Regions from separate parts of the Homo sapiens genome. Here all the other regions are linked to region 4. The links come from fine-mapping of genetic effects on plasma protein levels. Region 4 holds a variant in brackets. A gene starts in each other region. All regions are shown on their forward strands.

The links. PIP is the posterior inclusion probability: the model's chance that the variant is causal. Protein levels are from antibody-based Olink assays in UK Biobank. Linkage for the fine-mapping came from a reference panel and not from the study's own genotypes, which makes the PIPs less certain.
Region 1: it holds the start of ERBB2, and the variant in region 4 is fine-mapped to the plasma level of the ERBB2 protein (UK Biobank, PIP above 0.99).
Region 2: it holds the start of MEGF9, and the variant in region 4 is fine-mapped to the plasma level of the MEGF9 protein (UK Biobank, PIP 0.98).
Region 3: it holds the start of EGFR, and the variant in region 4 is fine-mapped to the plasma level of the EGFR protein (UK Biobank, PIP 0.96).

Annotation. Positions count from the first base shown.
Region 1 is chr17:39,699,703-39,703,499 of GRCh38, forward strand. ERBB2 (erb-b2 receptor tyrosine kinase 2) reads left to right here and starts at 362. Exons shown (of 27, transcript NM_004448.4): 1 at 362-609. The coding sequence starts at 537. RefSeq lists enhancers at 1,344-1,845, 1,846-2,345.
Region 2 is chr9:120,709,335-120,718,731 of GRCh38, forward strand. MEGF9 (multiple EGF like domains 9) reads right to left here and starts at 5,136. Exons shown (of 6, transcript NM_001080497.3): 1 at 4,424-5,136. The coding sequence starts at 5,024. RefSeq lists a silencer at 4,824-5,673.
Region 3 is chr7:55,010,107-55,019,499 of GRCh38, forward strand. EGFR (epidermal growth factor receptor) reads left to right here and starts at 8,911. Exons shown (of 28, transcript NM_005228.5): 1 at 8,911-9,259. The coding sequence starts at 9,172. It overlaps LOC105375284 (a long non-coding RNA gene), which reads right to left and starts at 8,816. Exons shown (of 4, transcript XR_007060329.1): 1 at 6,455-8,816.
Region 4 is chr3:136,178,066-136,186,065 of GRCh38, forward strand. The region is part of intron 1 of MSL2 (MSL complex subunit 2); the gene reads right to left. Among named protein-coding and RNA genes, the nearest start is that of MSL2, 14 kb to the right of the region's middle. The variant AAAAT/A (reference allele first, on the strand shown) is at 3,856.

The DNA of each region.
Region 1 (3,797 bases), not on the chromosome of region 4:
CAGGAAAGTTTAAGATAAAACCTGAGACTTAAAAGGGTGTTAAGAGTGGCAGCCTAGGGAATTTATCCCGGACTCCGGGGGAGGGGGCAGAGTCACCAGCCTCTGCATTTAGGGATTCTCCGAGGAAAAGTGTGAGAACGGCTGCAGGCAACCCAGGCGTCCCGGCGCTAGGAGGGACGCACCCAGGCCTGCGCGAAGAGAGGGAGAAAGTGAAGCTGGGAGTTGCCACTCCCAGACTTGTTGGAATGCAGTTGGAGGGGGCGAGCTGGGAGCGCGCTTGCTCCCAATCACAGGAGAAGGAGGAGGTGGAGGAGGAGGGCTGCTTGAGGAAGTATAAGAATGAAGTTGTGAAGCTGAGATTCCCCTCCATTGGGACCGGAGAAACCAGGGGAGCCCCCCGGGCAGCCGCGCGCCCCTTCCCACGGGGCCCTTTACTGCGCCGCGCGCCCGGCCCCCACCCCTCGCAGCACCCCGCGCCCCGCGCCCTCCCAGCCGGGTCCAGCCGGAGCCATGGGGCCGGAGCCGCAGTGAGCACCATGGAGCTGGCGGCCTTGTGCCGCTGGGGGCTCCTCCTCGCCCTCTTGCCCCCCGGAGCCGCGAGCACCCAAGGTGGGTCTGGTGTGGGGAGGGGACGGAGCAGCGGCGGGACCCTGCCCTGTGGATGCCCCGCCGAGGTCCCGCGGCCGGCGGGGCCAGAGGGGCCCGGACGAGCTCTCCTATCCCGAAGTTGTGGACAGTCGAGACGCTCAGGGCAGCCGGGCCCTGGGGCCCTCGGGCGGGAGGGGGCAGTTACACGGCAGCGGCTCGAGATGGCCCATCCAAGAGACTGGCGCTTTCCAGGCTCCGAGGGGCTCCGGGAACTTGTCAAAGAAGTTCTCTGAAATTGTTCAGAAAGTTTTCCCGCAAAGGGTGTATTGCGTAGAGCGCGCGCGCGCGTTTCCCCCCTTCTTGAGCCCCCTCAAGCTTTCTCAAAGCCTTTCCAGTTGGCAGCCTCCGCCTCCGGACTGGCCTGGGCTGGATTCCTTGGGGGGGTCCTCTGCCCTGCCCCTCCTCCAGCCCCTCCCCGCTCCCCTTCAGACGATTTTGGTTTGGTTGCTCCTGCTTCTGGCGGGGTCGGGTGTGTGTGTGTGTGGTGGAGTGGAGGGTGGCATAGCAACCTGTCCCAACCAGAGCCGGGGAGGAAAGGGTGGCCCGGAGGGTGGCCTCTTGCTGGGGTCTGGGTTGGGGGCGGGGGAGACGTTTGCTTTGAACAGATTCTTGGGGCCAGCTTAGGGACTGTGCTCTGTGACTTTTGGAGCGCGTGGACCATGGAGGGGTGGGGGTGGGTTTCTTGGGGTGTAAAGTGGGAGAGTTCCCAGAGAAGGAAGCTAAGAAATAAGGCCAGATGGGAGCCTAGGGAGGGCTGCGTTGTTCTGCTGCCTTTTCCTTGGTGCTGTGCGTGGGGAAGGGTGAGTGGGGGCAGTGTGTATCCTGACCCATCTGTCCACCTGTGTGCATTAATCATAAAAGCTAACATATAGCCTGGGCCAGGTATACTCTGCCAGGAACTGTTTGTGGTGTTTTGCATGCATTCTCCTTTAATCCTAGAACACCCCTATAGTGGAAGTTCTGCCAGCATTCTGGACTGAGTAGCAGTCCAGAGGTTGAGTAGCAGCTAGTAAGTGGTGGGGTCAAGATGGGACCCCAGGCAGTGCGACCCCCAACCATGCATTCGAAATCGCTATATGGATGAGTGCACCTGGAGCAATGAGGGACACTGCTCCCTGAGTCACTGGGCTGCAGGGGAGACAAAATGAAAGTGTTCTGGGAGTCGTGGGTGGTCTCCATAGGTCAGAGGGTCTGGGGAGGGAGTGGGTGTCATCGTGGCTGTGTGTTGCCCGAGGGGCCCTCTGTGAGTGAGTGCATGGCCGTGTTATCTCTGCAGGTCTACGCCAGGGTGTTCCTCAGTTGTGTGGTCTTTGTATTTGTGTGTCTGGGCTTTGTGTTGCCAAACAGCAGTCTCTCTGCTGACTTGGGGACACAGGCTGAACTCTGTCCTCTGCAGGAACTCCCTTAAGGTGCTGGGCCAGATCTGCCATAAACAGAGGGAGGTAGCCTTCTATGGCCACGCCTTCTTGCTGAGGAAGAAGGTTCCTCTCTTCCAGGGAGTACATCCTTGCCCTCCCTGTTTCCCAGACAAGCATCTTCACCTCTCATCTTCTGATGAGAAGGGTGAGGCCATACTGAGCTGTCAGGCTGAGCTGCTGCCCTTCCTCACCTTGGGCTGGGAGTTGATCAGGGAATGGCAGTTGCTGCAGAGCTGGATTTGAGGGCTGGGTTCTCTGGATGGGGCCTCCTCATGTCCTCACCCCTCAACCTGCACTATTGATTGTGTTGTGCAGGAGTTAGTTAAAAAGTCATTGCACAGCCTGGGCAACAAGGCAAAACTCTGTACAAAAAATACAAAAATTAGTTGGATGTGATTACACGTGCCTGTAGTCCCAGCTACTCCGGAGGCTGAGGCAGGAGGATCACCTGAGCCCAGGAAGTTGAGGCTTGCAGTGAGCTGTGATTGCAAATGCTCTCCAGCCTGGGTGACAGTGTGAGACTCCGTTTCAGAAAAAAAGTATACCACCCAGCTGCCTCCAGCACCCAGATTTTACCCAAGGGGTGAGGTCTGGGGCAGGAATGTGGGGGAAGGGGAGGCCTAGGGGGAGCCCCAGAGGGGTCAGGATTTTTCTGAAATCCTTTCTTAGAGGTATGGGTTTTACAAATTGCAGCAAATACATCCTTTTAATCTTGCAGAACTCCTTCATATTTTAATTCCAGTATGATTCTTCCAACAGCCTCCTCTCTTTACTATACTTGGGGAAAGTACTCATTTTATTTGTCAAGAAAAAAACAATTGAAAAGATAGGGATCAAATGTAAAAAGAAAAAATACGTGGCATTCCAAAGTCAAACACAAAGCATGTTTAATTTTCTCGTGGTTTGGGATTACCCATATTCCTGCTGTATGAACCTGTCTTGTCTTAACTTTTAAGAAATGTACGGTGTACTTCCTATATGCTAGGTTTTTATCCATGCTTTCATTTAATCTCTGTGACAGTCCTGTGAAGTAGGTGCACAGATGAGAAAATGGAAGTTCAGAGAAATGAAGCAACTTATCCAAGGCTCCCAGCTACCCAGTAATGTCCAGGGAATTTTTGGACTCTGAAGAGGAGGCATTAAGAGGTGGTTAGAGTCTTATTCCAGCCAACAATAATGGGTTGAACAAAGCCTTAGGGGCAGGCAGGTGGCCAGATGGGAGGAGAAGCGCTCCTCTTGTTCAGGCGAATGACCTTTCCATCCACTTCTCTAGGCTGTAGAAAGTGGAGCTGAGCTGGGGGCCCTGAGGTTCCCTCTTGACTTCAGAGTCCTCTCCCTTCCTGTCCAGCCAATGCCTGTCTTCCTTTTGGGCCCTACCAGCATGACAGGGGGCTGCGGGCAGGAGGGGACAGAGGCCACGTTGACACACAGGGCTGTGGGTGAGAGAGACAGCTGAAGTGTCAGCGTGAGGGGCCAGTGTGGGGCTGCGGCTGGGAGGGCTGGGGTGGGGCCCAGGGTAGTTGTGCCTGTCCTTGGGTGATGGAATGATCTGGAAAGAGATTCCTTCCCTGCCCTCCACCTGTGAGAAGCCCCTCTAGAGTGACATCTCCATCTTATGTTTGGCCACCCATCCTCCCCCTGGGAAGAGAGCCGAGGTGGGGTAAGGGATGTGTACTCTTTCAAGGAGTGGGAGAATTATTCTAGCGAATGTTTGTGTTGTCCCAGTTCTGT
Region 2 (9,397 bases), not on the chromosome of region 4:
ACCACGAGGCGGAGGTTGCAGTGGGCTGAGATGGTGCCACTGCATTCCAGCCTGGGCAACAGAGTGGAACTCCATCTCAAAAAAAAAAACAAAAAACAAAAAAAAACTAGAAGAGAAGTAACCAAGACAGTAAGAAAATTTGAAACCATGTCACATAAAGATCAGTTGAAGGAGCTGAAATTATTTGGCCAAGACAGAGAGGGATCATGATCCCTGTCCCCTAACCTGTAAGAGCTGTCATGGCACAGAGACAGCCAACTTTTTCTGCATGGCCCCAACGGGCAGAGCCAGATCAATCAGTTAACTAAAGTAAGAAATTTCAGCTAAGCCTATGGAAATATTTCTTCAAATGTAGAGCCACATTAGGAGGTAGTGGCATTTAAAGTCCTATCTACCCCTAAGGGTCCATAATTTTTAAAATCAAACATTTGGGCCAGCGTGCGGCAGCTCACACCTATAATCCCAGCACTTTGGGAGGCCGCGGTGGGCAGATTACCTGAGGTCAGAAGTTCGAGACCAGCCTGGCCAACATGGTGAAACCCCATCTCTACTAAAAATACAAAAATTAGCCAGGCATGGTGGTGCGCACCTGTAATCCCAGCTACTTGGGAAGCTGAGGCAAGAGAATCGCTTGAACCCGGAGGTGGAGGTTGCAGTGAGCCAATCTAGCCTGGGCAAAAAGAGCGAAACTCCGTCTCAAAAAAAAAAAAAAAAAAAATCAAACATTTGTCATTACCTTAGTGTCTTACTGATTATTATTACCTCTGGTATCACAGCATCTCTCTTCACCCTGCTTAAAATGTCCTACCCAGGGCCAGGCACGGTGGCTTACACCTGTAATTACAGTACTTTGGGAGGCCAAGGTGGACAGATCACCTGAGGTCGGGAATCCGAGACCAGCCTGACCAACATGGAGAAACACTGTCTTTACTAAAAACACAAAATTAGCTGGGCATGGTGGCACATGCCTGTAATCCCAGCTACTTGGAAGACTGAGGAGAATCGCTTGAACCCGGGAGGTGGAGGTTGTGGTGAGCCGAGATAGCACCATTGCACTCCAGCCTGGGCAACAAGAGCGAAACTCCGTCTTAAAAAAAAAAAAAAAAAAAAAAGTCCTACCCAGCCAACCAATCAGTGAATGTTTTGCTGGGTTTGTGGGAGAAAAAGTGCCTGCTTGCTGGGCAATTAGTTTCAGTTTGCAGATCAGTGTCCTTGTAAACAAAAAAGGGCCCTAACTGAGGGGCAGGCAAGAGCTCTCAGCTAGATCTCCATGAAAGAAATTATTATTAATTCAAAAAGCATCTATAAGACCTATTCAATCAAATAATATATTATCAGTGGCATTAGTTCTTACAGGAACGTTGAAATTAAAAAATACTGTACAACCATCTTCTCAAATGCCAGGGAATCCAACTTTGCAAGCCAAACCAGTTGTCTCAAATTCAATTATAAGTTTTCCTTCTGCCAAAGAGATATGTTTTCTGTTTAAAGTAGACTGGAGCCCATGCTCCATACTTGATCAGATCACTGTAAAGTCAATTTAGCTGCTGAGAACTAGATATTGGCAATCTAGAGTGAATTCACAGAGAAGTACAAACTACCTAATATTTAAAACACAGGAAAGTTATCGAAATTGGACATCCTTCCAAGATTTTTTCACCCAAAGACCATCACAGACGTAAGTATAATGTTAGTTCATGAAAATTATTAAAAGCCTTGAACAACAGTTCAGATGACAAATATTACTCAATCCAGCTTTACTGCAGTGTATACTGAATTGGATTCTAAGCAACTCCAGTGAAAGTATTAGAGAATATAGTAAATAGATGATGGATTTAACAAAAATACTCTGTGCTGCTTCCTCTCTGCTTTTTAAAGTGAAGCCTAGAAGCAATCTAAGTGTCCATAAATAAGGGCTTGGTTAAATAAATTATGATACATTCTTACCCTGGAAAATGCAACTATTAAAAAGAATAAAGTAGACCCTAGATACCGATATTTTTTTTAAAAGTCCATGATACATAGTTAAGTGAATACCACAAGTTGCAAAACATGTATAGAATTATTCCATTTTGATTTTTTAAAATCTATTTTTAAATACCCTGTGTGTATGTTCATATATGCCCAGCAAAAACAGCTGAAAAAAGATCTGACAAATTGCTAACAGTAGTAACCTCTAGGGACTGACTGAAACTAGGAGGCAGTGAAGGAGTGACTTTCCCTTTTTCCTTTGTGGACTTCTGGTTGTTTATATTTTTTTGCCAGTAGGGGTTACCTTTGGGGTTGAAAAATAACAACACAAAAATAGTAAAAGTAAAATAACATGAATTACACAGATTTATTTATCAGATACTAACCAAAGTAAGTGATCTTTCTACTTAAATGCTACTGTATGCTTAAAACTCCAGAGAATCTAATTCATTCTTTTTCTATTATATTTTACTAAAACAAATAAAAATCACCCCAAGTCCCTACTAGTTTTCTCAAATGCTTTCTATACATACATACATACACACACACACACACACACACACACACCCACAGGCCTGGTCATAAGCATAGCTAACACACACGGTGCTTATTCTACACTAGGAACTGTTGTAAGCACAGTAAGTGTTAACTTATTTAATCTTCCCAGCAGGCCTGGTGAAGTGAATCATGCCTGAAATCCTAGAACTTTGGGAGGCCGAGGCAGGAGGACTGCTTGAGTTCAGGAACTCAAGACTAGCCTGGGCAATATAGTGAGCCCTCATCTCTACAAAAAATACAAAAAATTAGCTGGGTGTGGTGACCCACGCCTGTAGTCTCAGCTGCTCAGGAAGCTGAGGTGGGAGGATCGCTTGAGCCTGGGAGGCAGAGGTTGCAGTGAGCCAAGATTGTGCCACTGCACTTCAGCCTGGGCAACAGAGCCAGACCCTGTCTCAAAAAACAAAAACAAAAACAAAAAAAGTCTTCACAGCAACCTTATGAGTTAAGTACTACTATAATATTATCTTCATTTCACAATCAAAGAAACTGAGTCCAAAGAGCTTCAGTGAGCCGCCTAAGCTTACACAGCTAACAAGGGGAAGAGCTAGGATTCAAACCTAAGAATAAACTCCAGAGTCCATACTCTCAACCACTATGCTTCCTGTCTCTCAGTAATATGTCAATCTCTCTATATGAAAGCCAAAAGGGGTTACAGGTAAAACCCAGCTAGCTAATGCATTCCTTGAAGCTGGAAGAGATGCACACTTGGCTTTTTATGGGTGAATAATCCTACTTATGTCATTGCCAAGCTCCAACCCAAGGATCAAGACTGTATTAAGGTTCATAACCATGTGGGAAAATTCTCTACACACTCAATTATAGTCCAAAGTCCATACCTGACTCCACAGTAAATCACTAAGCCTAAGATTTAGGTCAGAGACCCAGCTAGACAAAGGATTTGGACAAACCTCCACCCCAACTCAAAGCAAGACAATTCAGAAACTTTTGTCCAAACGTTCTGACAAAGTAGGCTTTTGTTTTGTTTTGTTTTAGTCCTAGGCCCACTTAAGATTTAAACGGGGAAAGAATACGAGTTGTCTTTAACTTTGCTTGAAGACTTCAGCAAGAAAAGCCTTTTCTACGTGGGCTCAAACAGAAATTGGCATATATCAGCATCAGCAAAGTTGAACATCCTGGCTTAAGGAGACAAAAATAGGCATCCTTGCTTAAATGGTGTATTTGGCCAAACATGTTGACCTTATAATTGTGGAAGAAAAAAATGGTGCGAGGAAGAGATTTAACCTAATTTGTAAATGTGCTCAGCCTAGATACACACCTGTCCCAAATGACCTACTGAATCCACTTATTTGCAGGGACAACATGGATTACAATGCCTTTTTTGTTTTTATTTTTTGCCCTCAAGTGGTCCATACTACTGTTTGTAAACAAAATCCTCTCACTACCTCTCTTCCACCTGTCATACACACACATCTGATATTTACATAAACAAGAAGAAATGAACAGGGAAACTGGAGCTTTGGGAGGAATTCCTTACCCTCAGCTTTTGACCCAGTGGTTGAAGGAGGTACTATGCGGGCTTTCAAACTTCCCCAAATAACCCAGGCAGAGAGGCTGGGTGCGCGAACCCAACCCAAAAGTTTGCGCCCATTCTGGTCTCTGAAAAAGGCCAGAAAGCCCTGTTGGGAAGAAGATGAGATGCCTTCCACCCAGCAGCCACCCCCTCCCGAGGGAGCACAGCCCACGGGGGACAAAAGACTTTCCAGATTGATCGGGGGCGGGAGGGAGACTAGCTGGACCTGGGATCCCCCCTCGGGAGCCGGAACCTGGGGTGTCTTTGGGGTAACAAACGATAAATTATAGGCAAGAGCCCAACCCTAGATTGCCGGGGCTGAGGTGAGGACGGGTCCTGCCCGAGAGGGAGCGCCGGACTCACCTGGAGGAGGCGAAGAGGGGGCCTCGGTGGCAGGTGGGGTGGGGAGGACGCTGCTGTTGCTGCTGCTGGGGAGATCGGGGGTCGGGGTCCGGGGAGTCGTGGGCGCCGGTACGGTGGTCGCTACAGGGGTGGTCGGCGCCGGGCCAGTGGTCGTCGAAAGGGTGGTCGGCGCGGGTCTGGTCGGCGCCTGAGAGGTGGTCGAAGTGCGTTCCGCCGCCGGAGGGGTGGTCGGCGAGGGGCCGAGCGGCGCCTGAAAGGTGGTGGAAGAGGGTCCAGCAGTCGCCCAAAGAGGGGTGGTCTCCGGGGACTGGGCTGGAGAAGTCGCAGCCAGGGGTCGGTGGACGGTGGCGCGCGGGGGCCCGGTCCTCGGGGCCTGGGCCGTGGGAGCCGTCGCCCTAGGGAAGGGGTGGCTGGGCTCGCCCCGCAACCCGGGGCCCGGCGACGCGTCCACCTGCCCCGCGGCCCCGCCGCCACCGGTGACATTCCCCGCCGAGGCGGCTGAGGCGACGGCGGCGGCGGCGGCGGCGGCGGCGCAGCACAACAGGGCGAGGCCGCCCAGGCTCGGCAGGCTCCTCATGGCGCGCTCGGCTCCGCCATTCATTCATTCAGCCAGTCGGTTGGTCAGTCATCTTCTCCTCGTTGCAATCCGACCAAGGAAGCCTCCGCAACCGCCGCCGCCACCGCCACCGGGCGCACCATCGCCACCTCCCTCTGACAGGCGGCCGGCCCCGCGGGCGGGCCCCAGCGCGGAGGGAGCGACCGGACCGAGCGCGGACCGCCCGCCCTCCTCGATTGGCAGCCGCGCCTAACCAATGGGAAGCCACAGTCGCCCACGTGATCCGCCCGCTTCCCGGCCTCTTTGTAGCCCCGTAGGCCAATCAGAGGACGTCCAGGAGAGGGGGCGGTCCGTGAGGCGGGAGAAGGGTGGTGCGAGCCCAGCTCTAGCCCGCCGGGCTCGCGGCGGCCCCGGCTTTGTCTGCCCAAAGAGTGGGGCGCGGGCCTCGGGCACCGGGCGCCGCGGAGCAGACAAAGGATGCGCCCCGCGCGGCAGACGCCGGGCCTAGTCATCTGCTCCACCGGGCTGCGAGCACGAGCGGGGGGTGGAATCAGCACTCGGGAGCATCCCCGCCCTCCTGAACAATGGGGCGCCAGCGCCGCACCCCAGCTCGGGCGGGGACCGCGCGGGAACCCCGCGATGGGAGAGGGCAGCGGCAGCGACGATGTAGAGCTTGGCATGCCCTCTGCTGCTCCAGAGAGCCTGGTCGCAGCCTTGCGAGGTCTCTGCCGCCATTCCCATTTCAGAGATGGGGAAGCTGAGGCCCTTGCTGAGGGCCTCCCTGAACCGAGACCCACGCCCTCACCAGAAACCTGCTGTGGGCCAGGTGTTGTGCCAGACTGGACAAGGGGGCGGGACCGGGCGGTGGAGACCCCTGAGGGCAGAAGGTGCAAGCTTCCTGCGTGGAGGAGACAGGCTCGCAAGCACACTTACCTAAACCCCGGGAAGAATAGGATCAGACAGGGTTGAACCTCAACTTGATGTCTTTTGCTGAATGGTTTTGTGGCCTGAGCGCGGTTTTTTCACCACTAAAATGGAGATGATAGGACACCCCTCACCCCCCACCCCCCTCACAGAGCTGTTGTGAGAATTAAGTCATGGACGTAAAGGGCTTAGCCCAGAGCCTGGCCCACTGTTGTAACCCTCATTAATGCTAACTATTCTCAGCATTTGCGCCAGGGCAAGCCCAGGATTAGAAAGCAGCCCCAGGCCACAGCCCTTCAGTGCCCCCAGAGCCTCCGGCTGGTTGCAGGGGTTGGGGTGGGGCTAATAGCCGAGCTTGACCCTGGATGACACTAAACCCTGAATCAAGCTGGAATTCGGGCACGCAGCCTCGCATCATCCGCCCAGGATCCAGAGCTAGGTCAGGCGCTGCTGCTTCGGCTCAGCAGCTTCCAGAGGAAGCCAGGCAGGGCGGGTTTGTCATCTGATGGGGCTTAATTCAAGCCCCACTGCTAACCCAATCCCGGCCTCCCCTACGTGATGTTTGGCTTTGTGCATGGTTTCCCATTAGTCATTGGTCTTCAACCAGACCAGCAGGATGAGATTTATGTGTGAACCCGTGTATGTTAATTAAAGCATGCATTTATTTTCCTGCATGAGTAGTGGGTGGGGGAGGCTGTGTATGAATGCATAAACATGTTTGTGAGTCTGTGTGTATGAGTGTTGTATGTATCTGTGTGAGTTTATGAGTATGGGAGCTAGTATCTATTTTCATATATTGTGTCTTAATAATCTGTGCATGTGTACTGGTGTGTGTTTTTGTGTATTTTCTGTGTTTTTGCATTTGTGGTTATCTATGGGTGTGTCTTGATAGGTCTATGTATATAAGACAGCGGGAATGAGGGAGAATGTGAGTGTTCTGTCTTCAGGACCAATATTTAGCAAGCACTAACCAAGGTTCTATTTTTACTTTGCTTTGGGAGGGTGGACAGGTCATGCCAGTCCCCCATATTCCCTTGCTGACCCTCCCTGGCCCTTCAAACCCCAACCAAAATGTCACATTCTCTAAAAGACATTCCTGGATTTGAGTGGGAATTAATCTCTCCCTTCTCATTTCCCCACCACCCCTTGTTTATGCATTGATTACAGCCCTGATCTACCAATCTACCTCTCCGTTGCCTCTTCCTAAAAGGATTAAGGATGGCTTTCAGAAATATATACAACAGGATAAATTGTATTGCCCACATGGCTTTATTACTTCTCATAGGCATGCATCAGCCTTAATACTAGAACTTGTTATTTATGTGTCTGTCTCTTACGTCAGATGTTCTCCCTGTTCTGAGAACCTAGCAGGGGCAACACATGTAAGTGCCAACCCATGCTGGTTAAATTGAATTAATTGAGGTCTTGTCGTGCTTGTGGGAGGAGCTTGTGTCTTTAGAGTCAGACAGACTTGGGTCATGACTGCCAACTCTGTGACCTTGGAGGAAACCTTTCACCTCTCTGAGCCTCAGTTTTCCCCCCCACTTTTTTTTTTTTGAGACAGTGTTTCACCCTTGTCGCCCAGGCTGGAGTGCAGTGGGGTGATCTTGGCTCACTGCAACCTCCGCCTCCCAGGTTCAATCGATTCTCCTGCCTCAGCCTCCCGAGTAGCCGGGATTACAGGCACTTGCCACCAGGCCCAGTTAATTCTTGTATTTTTAGTACAGACGGGGTTTCACCATGTTGGCCAGGCTGGTCTCGAACTCCTGAGCTCAAGTTATCCTCCGGCCTAGACCTCCCAAAGTGCTGGGATTACAGACATGAGCCGCCGCGCCAGGCCACTTTTCTCATCTATTAAATGGGGCCAATAAATAGTCTCTCATTTGTTGACTAGGATTGAGGAGAATGTTTTTACAGAGCCTAGCACACAGACGGTGCTCAAGCTGTGTAGGTTCATATTTTTGTTATACCATTGCTAACTTTGAGACTTGTTGGCTGAAGGACCAGAGCAGAAACCCCTGCCCCATAAGTTCCCCATCAGGTGACATGGCCTGACACTTGCCCTACCTGATATTTCCAAATGATATCTGAAAAATGCTGGGTTGGCCCTGAGCTTTGCTGTATCAGAGGTTCTCTGGCAAGGGGAAAAAAGCTGATGCAGCTTCTTGGCCAGGAGAGCCACAGAGCAAATGACTAGGAGACCTTGTCGAGTGATTCAGGTCAGCTCTCTGCCTTAGGCAAGGATCATCCATGCCGGGGCTTTTAAGATGGGATATTAGCCTGTCATATGTATAGAAAATATTGAATTTTTTTGAAAGATACCAGTAATTTAAATGTGTTAATGTCCATTCAACATTTAATTTTTAAATTTCCTTAATCTTAAATCTTCCTTAATCTCTAAACTACAAGATGACTTTCTTAGGAATTATGTTTGTGTTTAAAAATTGGAAATACCTTACATATCTGTCATCAAAGAAAGGTATTATTATACCTGTTAAATTTAATCCTAGAAAGTCATTGTAAGTGTAGCTATGAAGACAGTATAGCAAATATTAATAGTAAATAATTGAGCTCATAGTCTATGCTAGACACTATACCAAGAGCTACATATGAATTGTTTTGTTTAATCCTAAAAACCCCAGGAAATAGGTACTATTATGTCTTAGTCCATTTGGGCTGCTGCAACAAAGTACTGTAGATTGTGGCTTGTAGACAACAAAAAATATATCTCTCCCAGCTCTGGTGCCTGGGAAGTCCAAGATCAAGGCACCAGCAGATTCAGTGAGCTCCCTGGGTGTCCTTTAAAAGGACACTAATTCCATTCATGATGGCGCTGCCCTTATAACCTAATCATCTCCCAAACGCTTCCAAATACTTTTACATGGGGAGTTAGGATTTCAACGTGTGAATTTTAGGGGGACACAAACATTCAGTCTATAGTCTATTATTATCTGCATTTTACAGCTAAGGAAACTAGGTCACAGGTTAAGCAACTTGCCCATGGTCACTTAGTAAATAATAGAGCTAGAAATCAAACTGAGGCTGGCTGGCTCCCACTGACACCCTTAACTATAAATGGAAAATCCTCATAATGGTAAGAAGAAAAGAAAAAATAAAAATTATAGCTGTGACACTCTGTGTAACAGAACATTGACTGGCACTTTTCCTATTTGCCCCAGAACTGTAGCTAAGGCCCATGAGACCTGGAGCCAAAGGCTTAGGGAAGGACCACAGAACAGCAGGGGTCAGAGTGGGCCTTGTTGGAGCCAATGTGCAGCCTGACTTTTCTCCTAGGCAAATGAGGTGCTCTAAAGGGCCCCAACTGATTTCTCACTTTATTAGTCAGCACCGAGCACAGTGTCAAATACACAGAAATGGCTCAAGAATTGTCTGTGAGCCAGGCACGGTGGCTTATGCCTGTAATCATAGCACTTTGGGAGGCCGAGGTGGGTGGATCACAAGGTCAGGAATTCAAGACTAGCCTGGCCAACATG
Region 3 (9,393 bases), not on the chromosome of region 4:
ATGTACACTTTTATAGGAAACTGCTAAGCTGCATTCCTAAGTGGCTGTACCATTGTGCCTTCCCATCAGCAATGAATGAGACTTCCTATTGTTCCACATCCTCATCAGAATTTGGTGTTGTCACTGATCTGAATTTTTTCCATTGTAACAGATGTGTAGTGGTATCTCACTGTTGTTTTAATTTGCAATTTCCTAATGACATATGATGTTGAACATCTTTTTATATGCTTACTTGCCATCAGTGTATCCTCTGATGAGGTGTTTGTGTAGGGCTTTGGCCCATTTTTAAATCAGGTTATTTATCCTCTTATTATTAACTTTTAAGAGTTTAGTTCTTTGCATATTTTGGATAACAATCCTTTATCACATATTTCTTTTGCAAATTTTTCTCCAGTATATGGCTTGTCTTCTTCTCCTGGCATTGTCCTTCTCAGAGCAGAAGTTTTTAATTTTAATAAACTCCAGCTTATAAATTATTTATTTCATGGATTGTGCCTTTGGTTTTGTACTTAAAAAGTCATTGTCATACCTAAGGTCATCTAGGTTTTCTCCTACGTTATCTCCTAGGTGTTTTATAGTTTTGCATTTTACATTTATATGTATGATCAGTTTTGAGTTAATTTTTATGAAGTGTGTAAGGTTTGTATCTACATTCATTTTTTGCATGTGGATGTCCATTTGTTCCAGCAATATTTGTTGAAAAGACTATACTTGCTCTATTGTATTGTGTTTCTTTTTTGTCAAAGATCAATTGACTAAATTTATGTGCGTCAGTTTCTGATCTCTCTGGTCCATTGATATATTTGTCTATTCTTTCACCAATACCACATAGTCTAGACTACTGTAGTTGTATATGTCTTGAAGTCAGGTAGTGTTGATCCTCCAATTTTGTTCTCCAATATTGAGTTGGCTATTGTGGGTCTTTTGCTTGCCCATAGAATCAATTAGTCAATATTTACAAAATAACTTGCTCGAACTTTGACTGGGATTAATCTATAAATCAAGTTGGGAATAAGTGACATTTTGACATTATGGAGTCTTTCTGACCATGAACACAAACTATTGATCCATTTATTTAGTTATTTGATATCTTTCACCAGAGTTTTTTTGTTTTTTTCTTATAGATCTTATACATATTTTCTTATATTCATACCTCAGTATTCCATTTCAGGGTGTTAATGTAAATGGTAATGTGTTTTTAATTTCAAATTCCCTTAGTTCTTTGCTGGTATATAGGAAAGTGATTGGCTTTTGTATGTTAACGTTGTATCCTGCTCACTTGCTATAACTGCTTATTAGTTCCAGGAGCTTTTTTATTGTTTCTTTTGGATTTTCTAAGAGACAATTACATTATCAGTGAACAAACACGATTTATTTCTTCCCTCCCAATCAGTATTCATTTTATTTATTTATTGTGTGTTATTGCATTAGCTAGGACTTCTAATACAATGTTGAAAAGCATTGGTGAAAGGAAACATCCTTGCTTTGTTCCTGATTTTAGCTATAGGTTTTTGTAGCTGTTCTTTATTAAGTTGAGGATATCCTTCTCTATTCTTAGTTTGCTGAGAATTTTTATCATGAATAGGTGTAGGATTTTGCCTAATGTTTTCTTCTGTATCTATTGATATGATCATGTAATTTTTCTTTATCTATTGATATGATCTGTTGATGTGATGAACTACATTAATTGAGTTTTCAAATGTTGAACCAGTCTTGCATATCTGGAATAAATCGGAGTTGGTCATCATGTATAACTTTGTTACACTTTGTTGCATTTGATTTTGTAATATTTTCTTGAGAATTTTTACATCTATGTTCATAAAAGATATCGGTCTACAGTTTTCTTTCCTTTCTTGTAATATCTCTGTCTGGTTTTGCTATTAAGGTAATTCTGGCTTCACAAAATTAATTATGGAGTCTTCCCTCTACTTCTAGTTTCTGGAAGAGATTGTAGAGAATGGATGTAATTTCTTTCTTAAATGTTTGACGAAAATCAGCACTGATCTCATCTGGGCTTGGTGCTTTCTGTTTTGGAAGGTTATTAATTATTTATTCAATTTCTATAGTGGATATAGGCCTATATTGATTGGCAATTTCTTCTTGTATGACTTTTGGTACATTCTATTTCAAGGAATTGGTTCATTTCATGTAGGTTGTTAAATTCGTGGGTATAGCTGTTCATAATATTCATTTATTATCCTTTCAATGTTCATGAGATCAGTAGTGATGTTCCTTCTTTCATTTCTGATATTCATAATTTGTGTATTCTCTCTTTGTTTCTTAGCCTGGTGAGAGGCTTATAAATTTTATTGATTTTTTGAAGAATCACTTTTTGGTTTTGCTGATTTTCTTGCTGGGATTATAGGCGTGAGCCACCACACTCTTGCTCATTTTTTCTATTTTTGTTTTCCACACTTTTTCTGCCTCTGTGGATTTTACACAGCATTTTGTATAATTCGATTTCCTCTTTTTAGCATAGCAATTATTTTAGTCTTTAACTTTTTAAAATCAGTTGCCCTAGATTTTTTTCTCCCAACATTTTGGGAGGCCAAGGGGAGAGGATCACTTCAAGCCAGGAGTTTGAGACCAGCCTGAGCAACATAGCAAGGCACTATCTATACAAACATAATTTTAAAAAGTCCAGGCATTAGCTAGGACTGTGCCTGTAGTCCCAGCTACTCAGGAGGCTGAGATGAGAAGATCACCGGAGCCTAGAAATTTGAGGCTGCAGTGGGCTGTGATCATGTCACTTCACTCCTGCCTAGAAGACAGTTAGACCCTGCCTCTAAAATAAACAAGCAAATAAATAAAAAGAAAGGAAGAAAAGAAGAGCAAGGGCAGCAAATAGAAAATAGTAATAAATATGGTAGCTATTAATCCAACTATGTCAATAATTACCTTAAATGTTAGTGGTCTAAATATACTGCAATGGACTGAATGTTTATGTCTCCTCAAAATGTATATGATGAAATGTAAGCTCCCAAAATGATGTTATCAGGGGAGAGTGTTTTTGGGAGGGGATTATGTCATGAGGGTGGAGGCCTTACAAATGGGGTTAGTGCTATAAAAGAGACCACAGAGAGCTGCCTTGGTCCTTCTGCCATGTGAGGGCACTGTGAAATTATGGCCATCTATGAAGAAGTGGGCCCTTATTAGACATCAAATCTGCAAATACCTTGATCTTGAATTTCCCAGCCTCCAGAACTATGGGAAATAAATTTCTGTTGTTTACAAGTAAATCATTTTATGTTATTTTGTTACAGAAGCCCAAAAAGATGAAGACATACACCAGATCACTCCATTCTCTTCTTGCTTGCATGGTTTCTGAGGATACGTTGGATGTAATTCTAATATTCTCTATAGGTATTTTCTTTATGGCTCCTCTACAGGTAAGGTGTTTTTTCCCTTTGGCTTCATTTAAGAATTTTTCGTTAACCTTTGATTTTCTGAAGTGTGAATATGTTATGCCTAGGTATCATTTGTTTGTTTGGGTTTTCTTGGCATATATCTTCCTGATGTTCTCTGAACTTCCAGAATCTGTGATTTGTTGTCTGACATTAATTTGGAGGAATTTTTGGTATTATTGCTTTAAATATTGCTTCTGCTCCTTTTTCTCTTTCTTTGACTTACAGTATTCCCATTACATGTAATTATCTCACAGTTCTTGAAAGTTTTGTTTTGTTCTTTTTGTTAGTCGTTTTTCTTTCTGTTTTTCAGTTTTGGCAGTTTCTGTTTACGTATCTTCAATCTCAGAAATTCTTTCCTCAAGCATGTTCAGCCCACTAATGTGTACTTCAAAAGTATTCTACATTTCTTTTACAGTGTTTTTGATCTCTAGAATTTTTAAATTCTTTCTTAAAACTTTCATCTCTCAGGAATTCAAGACTAGCCTGGGCAACATAGTGAAACTCTATCTCTACAAAACATTAGCCAGGTATGGTGATGCATGCCTGTAGTCAGAGCTACTCAGGAGGCTAAGGTGGGAGGATCACCTGAGCCTGGGAAGTTGAGGTTGCAGTGAGCCAAGGTCACGCCACTGCACTCTGGATTGGGCAACAGAGCCAGACCCTGTCTCAAAAAAAAGAAAAATTCCATGGCTCTGCTTACATTATCCATCTGATCTTACATGTTGCCTATTTTTTCCATTAAAACTCCTAGCCTATTAATCATAGTTTTTTTATAATTAATACTCCGATGTGATAATGTCTTAGTCCAATTACTGTGGTTATAACAGAATGCCACAAACTGGGTGATTTATAAACAAAAGAAGCTGATTTAGGCTGATTTAGAGGCTGGGGAGTCCAAGAGCTTGGTGCTAGCATCTGATGAGTGTCTTCTTGCTTCATCATAACATGGGAGAGGGCATCACGTGTGAAGAGAGCTTACTCTTATAACATAGCCACTCCCACAAGAATTAACCCACCGCCATGAGAGCCATGTGAATTCATTCATGAGGACAGCGGGTTAAGTTTCCAATATATGGACTTTTCGGGGACACATTCAAACCACAGCAGTTAGTTGTAACGTTCGTGTCATGTCTCATTCTGGTTCTGATGCTTGTGCAGTCTCTTCAAACTGCGTCTTTGCCTTTTAGTGTGCCTTGCAATGTGGAAATGATATACTGGGTAAGAGGAGCTGTAGTAAAGAGGCTTCTAGTGACGTAGTGACAAGCTGTGGGGAGAGGGAGTGTTGCACAGTCCTGCCGCATGTCACAGTCTTCCAGTGAGCCTGTGTCCCTGGACTGTGAACTTCATGCTTGCTTCTCAGCTTCCCCAGCCCCTTAGATGGTACAGAACTGTTGGAGGGGGGTGGAGTTGTATATTTCCCTTGCTCTGGGTAGGTCACCCTCTGATAAAACACCAGGTTAGGCCTCTGGTGAAATAATTTCTCCTGAGGGCAGACCTTCTATTAATAATAGAATGTTCCAACCTATTTCAAAATGGTTCCTCTTCTCCTTCCACTGCCAGAAGCATAATGAGATTTTCCCCCTAATATTCGTGGTAAGGACCTAGCAGAGCTCCAGGAGGTAACACTCTCAAGTGTCTCATACTACCCTGCACCATGACTGGGCTCTGCTGGAGTTCTTAATTTGCAGAACTGCCCACACTGAGCCTCCCGCAATTTCTCAATTACAGGGCAAACTTTCCCAGCCGGCACTGGGTCCTTGGAGGTTTCTGTCTGCTGGTTTCTTCCTCTGGAGGTTGTGCTTCTGTGTTTGCCTGTCTCTCCAATTTGGGGGGCAGTGGTTTGCCCAATGACCTCAATTCTCTGAAAGAGCTAAGAAGAGGTGTTAATTTTTCGGTTTGCTCAGCTTTCTACTTGTTGCTAGAATGGAGCGCCAATAGTGCCTCCTATAGTGACATGTAACCCTCAACTCTAGAGATGATGAAGCATACTAATGACAAAGGAGAAATGCTTCAGCAGTTTTCTGTCAGCACATTACCCCTTGAAAAAGCTGCTTCTTCCACATTCTGCAAGAGATGGGTCTCAACTCAGAGCTCAAGGCAAATGACTTCCTTCAAGGAGAAGGAATAAACAGTCTCAGAAACCATGAAAGCCTGCCCCCAGGAGTGTCCCTGAACCTCAGCAGGGGCCACACTTACCTTGCAGAAATAGGTGAGGCATGCTCCTGGTACAAAATCCCAATGGTACAGAAGGACAAATTGAAAAACAAGTCTCCCTCTAAACCCCTGACCCCGAGCTACCTAGTTCTCCTCCCTAGAGGCAAAGCTGTTACCAGATTCTTGTATCTCCTTAACATATATCCTTAGAAGAGCTGTCAAGTGAACACATGTTTAAGTGAAAACCTATTTTAGAAGTGCATTTTCTTAAGGAACTTTAGGGTTGGAAGGAACCTGTGTCAGTCCTTAATTCACAACCTCCATTAGTACTTATTGTTCTTGCACAAAAATCTTTCTCAAAAAAGCCCTTTCCACTCTGACATAGCTTATTCTACTTTTACTTAGCTCCAATAACTTATAAAACATATTTTTGAAAGTCTAAAATCTGCCACTATGTTTTTTTTTCCTAATCAATCTTTACTTTGACCTCTAAGCCAGAGAAAACAGGTGGTCAAATGCCTTTTGCCTAAGATGGAACTTAGAATATTTGAAGACCTCAGATCTTCACCCTGCCAAATAACGTGTTTCTCCTCCCCTTTCACAGAGCATTTGGTTTTAGGAAATTCAGAGCCACATTCCTTATAGACAAGACTAAACTCTTATTCAACATACTCAGAAACTTCTTCTAAGAGGATAACCACTCATCAGAGGAAAAAAGTTTCTCATGTACAGCTGGCAAAGGGATGGAACCATCTGTGTTATTAAAATTGACAGACGCTTATGAGATTTATTAAGGGAAATACTAGAGTCTTAGTACATACTTGCTAATATAGCATACATGAAGGCTTTATCTATAATTTTTTTGGCCAAGCAGAAATTTTGGTATTACTCACCCTAACAAATTTCCAAGACATTATGAAATAGAATTTTAGGTCCTGACATCACCATTTGTCTCAGGTTTTGAAGCGTTGCTGGACAAGAGGGGTAAAACACGGCTCTGCCTTGGATTCAAAGTTGGCCTCTCATACTAGCAAGTATACCTTGGTATCCTGGTCACTTCTCCCGGCCACAGCATCACATTGCTATAAAAGGCAGATACAAGTATTAACCAGCTCACAGGTTATCAGATAAGCTTAGTCTGACCAATGCTTAACACAGCAACTGGGCCACTATTGTCATTCCTGTGGTGGTGGCACACACACCCAGCCTCTGTCCGGGCCATGGTCTAGGACCACCCTCCACAGAGGCTGTGAGCTAGAGCCCTAACTGTGCAGGGCCCTAACTATGCCAGGCTACTTATCTCTCTTAAGAGGACTTCATTAGTGCCTGCTCGGCCATACAGTTTTTTACTTACCAAGTAACACAGTTATCAGCACACTCCAGGTACTAGCCAAGGACTACAAAATCAACGTGAATGTCAGCTTTTGTATCAAAAGCTCAAAGGAGAAACTCAAACTTTACATAGATGTCCCATGAAGATGTTCAGCAAACCCATTCTTCTCTGTTCCCTGGAATCCATCCCAGTATTGTGCTATGTGTGTGTCTAGTAATTCTTTACAAAAAGCTCTGTTTCTTGTGATGCTATCAGATCACATTGAAGAATATACAAGCCGTACTATGAAGGCTGTTGTCTCATATAGTCCTAACGTAGTGAGAACTGATGTTCTTACATGCTGTCTTTTTGGGCACTCAAAGAAATTCCTGTACAGTCTTACAAATCAGTTGTAGCTTAAATTGATTTGTGTTGTGACTTGTACACACAGGTCACATTCCCTTGACAGAAAATATAGTTTAAAACCAAATTTGCAGCCCTTGTTAAGTGAATGCACAGGACTTTATTGTATTCAGGTCTTTTATTGTAAGACTCACTCCTGTCTTCATTTTATGTTCCACTGTTGTGCTTCCCATTTGCCTTTCTCTAGTTTTGTTTTCTGTGTTTCTACGGACTGCTCTCAGCCCAGGTGTGCAGGAAGCACACACATGCCTGCAGAGCCTTCATGGCCTCTGCATTCAGGGCATGACTTCAACGCACAGTGGCTGTACTGATTTGTTAAAACAAAGGAACAGATTACTTCTCCTAATTCACAGGGAAGTTCCAGGTTGTGCGGGCAGTGAGCAGACCTGTGTCTGTCTGCGCTTGCCCTGGTGAAAAACCCCACCGTTCAGGCTGCAGGGTGCGAGACCCAGGCACAAACATTTTGCTGGATGAGGAGGAAAGATGTAAGGTTGCTCCCCTTCAGAGACAGCAAAGGGCAGGTCTGTAGCTTCACTTACTTCAGGATTGTGATTTTTGACAGAGCCGAGAGATCAGGGTTGTTGAACCAGGCCTGAAGGTCCTAGTGAATCTCGTGAAGAGAGGAGGGGTCTGGCTGTAACATGGACCTAGAGGACATTTTTACTGCAGGAGAAGGAACAGTGGGGATGGGGTGGACTTGCCAAAGGAATATAGCTCAAGTTCCTGCAGCCCAAAAAAGCTCAGTTTCTTTTGGCCAAAGCTTCCGCGAGTTTCCCTGGCATTTCTCCTGCGGGAGCTACAGGGGCAGTGGGACACTTAGCCTCTCTAAAAGCACCTCCACGGCTGTTTGTGTCAAGCCTTTATTCCAAGAGCTTCACTTTTGCGAAGTAATGTGCTTCACACATTGGCTTCAAAGTACCCATGGCTGGTTGCAATAAACATTAAGGAGGCCTGTCTCTGCACCCGGAGTTGGGTGCCCTCATTTCAGATGATTTCGAGGGTGCTTGACAAGATCTGAAGGACCCTCGGACTTTAGAGCACCACCTCGGACGCCTGGCACCCCTGCCGCGCGGGCACGGCGACCTCCTCAGCTGCCAGGCCAGCCTCTGATCCCCGAGAGGGTCCCGTAGTGCTGCAGGGGAGGTGGGGACCCGAATAAAGGAGCAGTTTCCCCGTCGGTGCCATTATCCGACGCTGGCTCTAAGGCTCGGCCAGTCTGTCTAAAGCTGGTACAAGTTTGCTTTGTAAAACAAAAGAAGGGAAAGGGGGAAGGGGACCCTGGCACAGATTTGGCTCGACCTGGACATAGGCTGGGCCTGCAAGTCCGCGGGGACCGGGTCCAGAGGGGCAGTGCTGGGAACGCCCCTCTCGGAAATTAACTCCTCAGGGCACCCGCTCCCCTCCCATGCGCCGCCCCACTCCCGCCGGAGACTAGGTCCCGCGGGGGCCACCGCTGTCCACCGCCTCCGGCGGCCGCTGGCCTTGGGTCCCCGCTGCTGGTTCTCCTCCCTCCTCCTCGCATTCTCCTCCTCCTCTGCTCCTCCCGATCCCTCCTCCGCCGCCTGGTCCCTCCTCCTCCCGCCCTGCCTCCCCGCGCCTCGGCCCGCGCGAGCTAGACGTCCGGGCAGCCCCCGGCGCAGCGCGGCCGCAGCAGCCTCCGCCCCCCGCACGGTGTGAGCGCCCGACGCGGCCGAGGCGGCCGGAGTCCCGAGCTAGCCCCGGCGGCCGCCGCCGCCCAGACCGGACGACAGGCCACCTCGTCGGCGTCCGCCCGAGTCCCCGCCTCGCCGCCAACGCCACAACCACCGCGCACGGCCCCCTGACTCCGTCCAGTATTGATCGGGAGAGCCGGAGCGAGCTCTTCGGGGAGCAGCGATGCGACCCTCCGGGACGGCCGGGGCAGCGCTCCTGGCGCTGCTGGCTGCGCTCTGCCCGGCGAGTCGGGCTCTGGAGGAAAAGAAAGGTAAGGGCGTGTCTCGCCGGCTCCCGCGCCGCCCCCGGATCGCGCCCCGGACCCCGCAGCCCGCCCAACCGCGCACCGGCGCACCGGCTCGGCGCCCGCGCCCCCGCCCGTCCTTTCCTGTTTCCTTGAGATCA
Region 4 (8,000 bases):
GGATGATGTATATGTATAACCACTCAGACCCACAACATATTCATATACTCAAGCCATGCCTCATTTCATATTCTGGTAAGAACTAAAAGAGAACGCCAGACATCGTTTATCTTAATAACTAAGTAGGGGAGGCTTTTATAGAATGTTTGTGGTTACAGAGCACTTTTATAATATTCCATTATTTTCCTATTTTGGCAAAGCAATGACAGCCACTCACAAAATTATTACCTATAAGATAATGTAGGCTGATTAATTAGGCAAAATTAAGTTGATTCATACCTGAACAAACATTAATCAATAAACCAACATAAATTAAGATCCAAATTTCCCAAATTGGTGTTGCACGGAACCAGGTTTGCTTTATTACCCTCTTAAGAGAGTCATCCCAAAATACATTAGCATCTTAAAACTGAATATTCTATAGGTGTCAAAAAACTTAAGACAGCACTGCTTAAATTTACTGGCACTTTTTTTTTTTTTTTTTTGAGACAGGGTCTCACTCTGTCGCCCAGGCTGGAGTGCAGTGCTGCAATCTCAGCTCACTGCAACCTTGCCTCACAAGGTTCAAGCAATTCTCCTGCCTCAGCCTCCCAAGTAGCTGGGAAATTACAGGCGCCCACCATGGCACCCAGCTAACTTTTTTATTTTTAGTAGAGACGGGGTTTCACCATGTTGGCCAGGCTGGTCTCGAACTCCTCCTGACCTCAGGTGATCCACCCACCTGGGCCTCCCAAAGTGCTGGGATTACAGGCATGAGTCGCTGCGCCCCGCCAGCACACACTTTTTTTAACCTCACACGTGGAGTATTCCAAGACAGCACTACTACCATCAAACGGTTATTACCAGGATCACTTACATGGCCTACTCCAGCTCTGAGGATGCTGCCCAGGAATGTAGTTATTTTGTTGGTTTTCTTTTTTTTTTTTTTTTTTTTTTTTAAGAGACAAGGTCTCACTCTGTCACCCAGGCTGGAACGCAGTGGCACAATCAGAATTCACCACAGCCTTGACCTCCAAGGCTCAAGCAATCCTCCCACCTCAGCCTCCCAATTAGCTATACCAGTCTTAGTGTAATGGTCATAAACCTTGTGTTCAAATTTGGTCACAGGTGTTCACTTTGTTCACTTTTTTCTTTTTTAAAGACAGAGTACTCCCTCTATCGCCCAGGCTGGAGTGCAGCAGCACCATCATGGTTCAAACCAGCCTCAACCTCCTGGGTTCAAGCAATCCCTGCACCTCAAGCTCCCGAGTAGCTGGGATTACAGGCAGGGACCACCATCCTTAATGTTTTATTTTCTGGTAGAGACAGGGTCTCACTATACTGCCCAAACTGGTCTTGAACTCCTGGGCTCAAGCAATCTACCTGCCTTGGCATCTCAAGTGCTGGGATTACAGCATGAGCCATCCTGCCCAGCGAGGAATGTGTATTTTGTAAAAGCTTCCCAAATTCTGATGAACCAGGATAAGGAATCACTAAAAATACTTTTAACTTTTTCTTCCCTTGAAGTCATCTTCCACAGTAATAAGAACTCCTGGCGACATTTCATCATTTAAGTAGTAAATGTGATTAAATGATTTGAAGGAAAAAAAACTACTTTTAATCAGCATATTAGGCAAGATTATACTATAAAGATCATCTTAAAGCATACAAAGACAATTTTATCTAAATTAAGTTTTAAAATGCATTTGTTGACATATCTACTTTAAAACGGCTTATCTTGGGCTGGGCATGGTGCTCACACCTGTAATCACAGCACTTTGGGAGGCCAAGGCAGGTGATCACCTGAGGTCAAGAGTTTGAGATCAGCCTGGCCAACACGGTGAAACTCCACCTCTACTAAAAATACAAAAACTAGCCAGGCGTGGTGGCGGGGGCCTGTAGTCCCAGCTACTCAAGAGGCTGAGGCAAGAGAACACTTGAACCCAGGAGGCAGAGGTTGCAGTGAGCTGAGATCCCTCCACTGCACTCCAGCTTGGGCAACAGAGCGAGACTCCGTCTCAAAAAAAAAATAAAAAATAAAAATAAAATGGCATGCCCTGTTTGTAAACTCATGAATGTTAAAAATGTAGGCTAAAATGGCATACATTACACAGGGGCAAAACTGCCTATGTACCCTGATATTTGGACTTCTTATGTTTCCGACTAAAATTTTTTTTTAACAATTTTTGTATTTTGTTACTACGTGATAAGCTAAAAGTGGCTTCAAAACGGCATCTACAAACACTTCAAATAACACATTCCAAGTATGAACAGTCTCTGGTCTCCAAAAATAAAAAGCAATACTGGGTAGCACTGTATTTTCTCTTTTTAACGTTACTTTTTGAAATATTACCAAGGACCTGTTCAGATACAGGATGTTAACACAGACAACTTATAAAGAATAAAAGACACTTTGGGAGGCTGAGGTGGGCAGATCACGAGATCAGGAGTTCAAGACCAGCCTGGCCAAAATGGTGAAATCCCATCTCTACTAAAAATACAAAAATTAGCCGGGCACGGAGGCTGGCACCTGTAATCCCAGCTACTCGGGAGGCTGAGGCAGGAGAATTGCTGGAACCCGGGAGGCGGAGGTTGTAGTGAGCCAAGATCGCACCACTGCACTCCAGCCTGGGCGACAGAGCAAGACTCCGTCTCAGAAAAAAAAGAAAAAACAAAAGAAAAGAAAAGAAGAGGAGGAGAGGAGGGAAGGAGGGAAGGAGGGAGGGAGGGAGGGAGGGAGGGAGGGAGGGAGGGAGGGAGGGAGGGAAGGAGGGAAGGAAGGAAGGAAGGAAGGAAGGAAGGAAGGAAAAAGGAGTTGGCCGGGCGTGGTAGCTCAAGCCTGTAATCCCAGCACTTTGCGGGGCGGGGGAGCAGAGGAGGGTGGATCATCTGAGGTCAGAAGTTCAACACTAGCCTGACCAATGTAGTGAAATTCTGACTCTATTAAATAAAAAAAAAAAAAATCAGGCATGGTGGCACATGCCTGTAATCCCAGCTACTTAAGAGGCTGAGGCAGGAGAATCACTTGAACACAGGAGGTGGAGGTTGCAGTGAGGTGAGATTGCGCCACTGCACTCCAACCTGGCGACAGAGTAAAACTCTGTCTCAAAAAAAAAGAAAAAAGTAACAAAAATCGTGAACCAAATATTTAGAATCATTTACATTTTTATGCTCATCATCTAGTATTTCATTATCGACTTAATTTTCTTAATGCTTCTTGTCTCTAACCGTTGATCTATTGAATGAAGTATTGAAACAATGAGTAAGAGTTAATAAAATACATGACTAAGATTAAAACAATATGAAACCTTCATGACAGAAGGATTAAGCTGAATTATTAACTGGTTACAGCACCACTAATTTGTCTCATGCTCATTTGACATCTCTTCACATTACCTCATTTTAAAGGAAGATAAACATTTAAAATGTTTTCTCTTTTTCTAAAGTAACAGAAGTCCTTTCACTACCACCGTGGAACACCTTCTTGGGCCCGATTACTAAGGTGAAGAAATTGTTCTAAAGGTCTGTAAATGGTAAGCTCCAAAAATTTGTTCACAACCCCATCCAGCTCAATGTTTTAAAATCAAAACTTGGCCGGGCGCGGTGGTTCACACCTGTAATCTGAGCACTTTGGGAGGCTGAGGCAGGTGGATCACCTGAGGTCAGGAGTTGAAGACCAGCCTGGCCAACATGGTGAAATCCCGTATCTACTAAAAATACAAAAACTAGCCGGGCGTGGTGGTAGACGCCTGTAATCCCAGCTACTCGGGAGGCTGAGGCAGAAGAACTGCTGGAACCCAGGAGACGAAGGTTGCAGTGAGCCAACACAGTGTCACTGCACTCCAGCCTCGGCAACAGAGTGAGACTCTGTCTCAA[AAAAT/A]AAATAAATAAATAAATAAATAAATAAATAAATAATCAAAACTTACGTGGGCTGAAGAAAAAAAAATTTTTTAATTTAAAATTTTTTTAAAAAATCAAAACTTAAACAAGATGAAAACACTGAAGGCAAATTTCTCACACAGTTTTAAGAACAAATCTAAGTTCTTTAAATGTTATAACACTGTCCAACAGAACTTTATGCAACAATGGAAATGTTTTATATCTGCAATGTCCAATAAGGAAGCCATTACACTCACATGTGGCTACTGAGCATTTACAATGTTGTTAAGGATAACAGAAGAACTGGATTTTAAATTGTATTTACTTTTAATTAGACGAAATTTAAATTGTCACATATGGCTAGTGGCTTTGTATAAAATGTAGGTTTAGAATGTGATCTTATTCTGCTTCCAGACAAAATTGGAATAATCAGATTTACTCTCCTAACTGAAATAACTAAAAAACAGAATAGAACAATAGGTTTTCAAATATTGACGAACAGGCGGCACAGGACAGTGATCCCTGAAAAGGGGAACAAATATAAACCCTACAACCATCCTAGCTTATTGCCTGGGAATACTTTTCAGGCCAAAAAGCACAGGGAGGGAGAATCCAAAGCCTGGATTGAGGGGGGTGGGGGAGAAAAAGCTCCCCTGAATTGAGAAGCCAGAGCTGGAAGCCAAGGCAGCTGGACTTGTCAGAGCGAAGCACAGAGATGAGAGAGCTGCACAGAGAAAGAGGTCCAGCGCACCACTGCACTCCAGCCTGGGAGACAGAGCGAGACTCCGTCTCAAAAAAAAAAAAAAAGAGAAAGAAGTCCAGAGTGGTGTACCAGGTCCCTCTCAAGTCTTCAGCTCAGTACTGATTAATTAGCACATGCGTATAAACTACCAGAGAAGCCCCAGAAAGAAGCAGTGGAAACAATCCCCACAACTCACAGAAGTAGCAGAGTAATTCCTCCTTCCACTACCCAAAGTGAGAATCTCACAAGGCATCAGATGAGTAGTCAGAAGGTTCCTGCCCTCAGTAGCATGGAAAAACTAGTCTCTAAAAGCTGCTGCGACTCTGCTGAACAAAAGCTTAAAAACAAGCCTTGAAAGGATCAAACAGTCTCCAAGTAACTTAGCCTCATCCCAGAACGAAGCTCAAGAATATTTGTAGTACAAAAATATCCAGCAACAAAGTAAAATTTTACAAGGTAAAACTCACAATAGCTGGAAAATTAACCAGGCCAAGAAAGAAGCAGGAAAATATAACCCATGATGAGAAGAAAAACCAGTGCGAGCAACAAACCCAGAAAATGAAAGATGATAGAATTAGTAAACAACATTAAAAATGAAATTTATATTAAGCCAAATGCGGTGGCTCACTCCTGTAACCCCAGCACTTTGGGAGGCCAAGGTAGGAGGAGAAAAATACTTGAGGCCAAGAGTTCAAGACCAGTCTGGGAAACACAGGGAGGCCCCACCTCTATGAAAAATTTTTAAAATGAAAGTTTTGTTTTTTGGTTTTTTTTTGAGACAAGGTCTCACTCTGCCACCCAGGCTGGAGTGCAGTGGCACGACCTCGATCACTGCAACCTCTGCCTCCTGGGCTCAAGCAATCCTCCCACCTCAGCCTCCCAAGGGTCTGTGACTACAGGCACGCACCAACCATGTCCAGCTAATTTTTGTATTTGTTGTAGAGGCAGGGTTTTGCCATGTTGCCCAGGCTAGAAAAATCAAAGTTATTAAAATGGTAGTTATTTTAACTATATTCCATAAGTTCCAAAAGGTTTCATAAACCTACCAACAGAGCTTCAAAATACATGCAGCAAAAACTTATGATAAAACTCTGAAGAGAAACTGAAAACACATATAGTTCAGATTTCAACTCAATAACTGACAAAACTACTAAGAGTCTGTAAGAACAGAGAAAATAATGAACAATACTATCGACTAACCTGTGAAAATGTTTTAACTGACCAGAAATATTGTGAATCAACAACTGTTCTCTAACTGCCAAACAAGATAAAGCAATCCTGACTCTTATCCAGGTAATAAGATTTCACAAAATAATTGAAGATCACATCATTAGAATTCTATGGTCCTGGCCAGGCGTGGTGGCTCATGCCTGTAATCGCAGCACTTTGGGAGGCAAAGGCGGGCGGATCACGAAGTCAGGAGATAGAGACCATCCTGGCTAACACGGTGAAACCCCGTCTCTACTAAAAATACAAAAAATTAGCCGGGCGTTGACGGTGGGCGCCTGTAGTCCCAGCTACTCGGGAGGCTGAGGCAGGAGAATTGCTCGAACCCGGGAGGCGGAGGGTGCAGTGAACCCAGATGGTGCCACTGCACTTTAACCTGAACGACAGAGTGAGACTCCGTCTGAAAAAAAGAATTCTATGGTTCTGGGCTGGGCACAGTAGCTCATGTCTGTAATCCCAGCACTTTGGGAGGCCAAGGCAGGCAGATCACCTGAGGTCAGGAGTTCAAGACCAGCCTGGCCAACATGGTGAAACCCGTCTCTATAAAAACACAAAAAAAAATGAGCTGGGCATGATGGCAGGAGCCTGTAATCCCAGCTACTCCAGAGGCTGAGGTGGGAGAATCCCTTGAACCCAGGAGGCGGAGGTTGCAGCGAGCCGAGATCCCACCATTGCACTCCAGCCTGGACGACAGAGCGAGACTCCGTCTCAAAAAAACAAACAAACAAAAAAAAGAATTCCATGGTTCTGAACAACCTCCAGCGTACAAGAAGGGGCCTGGATAAATCCTTCATTCCTGAGAATTACAAACCCGAATTCTTACAGGAGCAAGTTAGATAAAGGTTAAAAAAAAAAAAAGGGGGGGGGGGGGACAAAGGTCACGTGTGACCAAGGACAAACTGAGGAGGACATACTCCTACCACCAAAGAAAAAAGCCAATCTCTCAAATCTAGCCAATGATGCTAGCCAATAATGGAATGCTTCCAATTCAATGCTTCCACTGTTGCAAAACCTCATACTTTTCCAGGAAGTGCCTAAAAATTTGGATTTTTATGTGAGGTCTAGGTTTGGAAACAGTAACCACCAACTCATTTTTTTTTGAGACTGAGTCTTGCTCTGTAGCCCAGGCTGGAGTACAGTGGCAGGATCTCAGTTCACTGCAACCTCCACCTCCCAGGTTCAGGCAATTCTCCTGCCTCAGCCTCCCAAGTAGCTGTGATTACAGGCATGCGCCACCACACCCGGCTTATTTTTTGTATTTTTAATAGAGACAAGGTTTCACCATGTTGGCTAGGCTGATCTCAAACTCCTGACCTCAAAGGATCCGCCAGCCCTAGCCTCCTGAAGTGCTGGGATTACAGGCATGAGCCACTGTGCTCAGCCCAATTCAGCAAATTTTTAACAAAGCTAAAAAAAAAAAAAAAAAGTCTGGAAATCAAATTCATAGCAAAAGTTATGCTTTAATCCAACAACCTCATCTTACAAATGAAACAGAAAAATCATTCAAGTCATCATAGAAGATAACTTCATCTAACCTTATCTAAAATACTATAGATATGGACACAAAAATCACCCTTTTAGAGGAAACTAAAACAAGGATGCTACCAGAATAACTTGGGACACAACTCTTTTTTTCTTTTTTTTTGGAGGGGGGGGTGGGGGAAGGGACAGAGTCTCACTGTCGCCCAGGCTGGAGTGCAGTGGTGCAATCTTGGCTCAATGCAACCTTCGCCTCCTGGGTTCAAGCAATTCTCCTGTGCGCACCACCACGCCCGGCTAATTTTTGTATTTTTAGTAGAGACAGGGTTTCACCATGTTGGCCAGGCTGGTCTCAAACTCCTGACCTCAGATGATCCACCTGCCTCGGCCTCCCAAAGTGCTGGGATTACAGGCGTGAGCCACCACGCCTGGCCAGGACCCAACTCCTCAGGAATGACAAAGCTGTCTTCCAACGCTGAAGGGCAAAATTTTATCAAAGGCTTTCTGAATTATTCCAGAAGACAAAACTAAAATCAATGGAGACAATTACATACAGACAAGGTAACTTGGGGAAAATGGAAGCCAAAAAAAAAAATTGTTCTAAAAGAGGTTGTCAAAACAACAGCATGGCTGTTTTGCAGAATATTTAGCTCAATTACCACAACCATATCGCTAAAAATCCCTGAAGAATTCT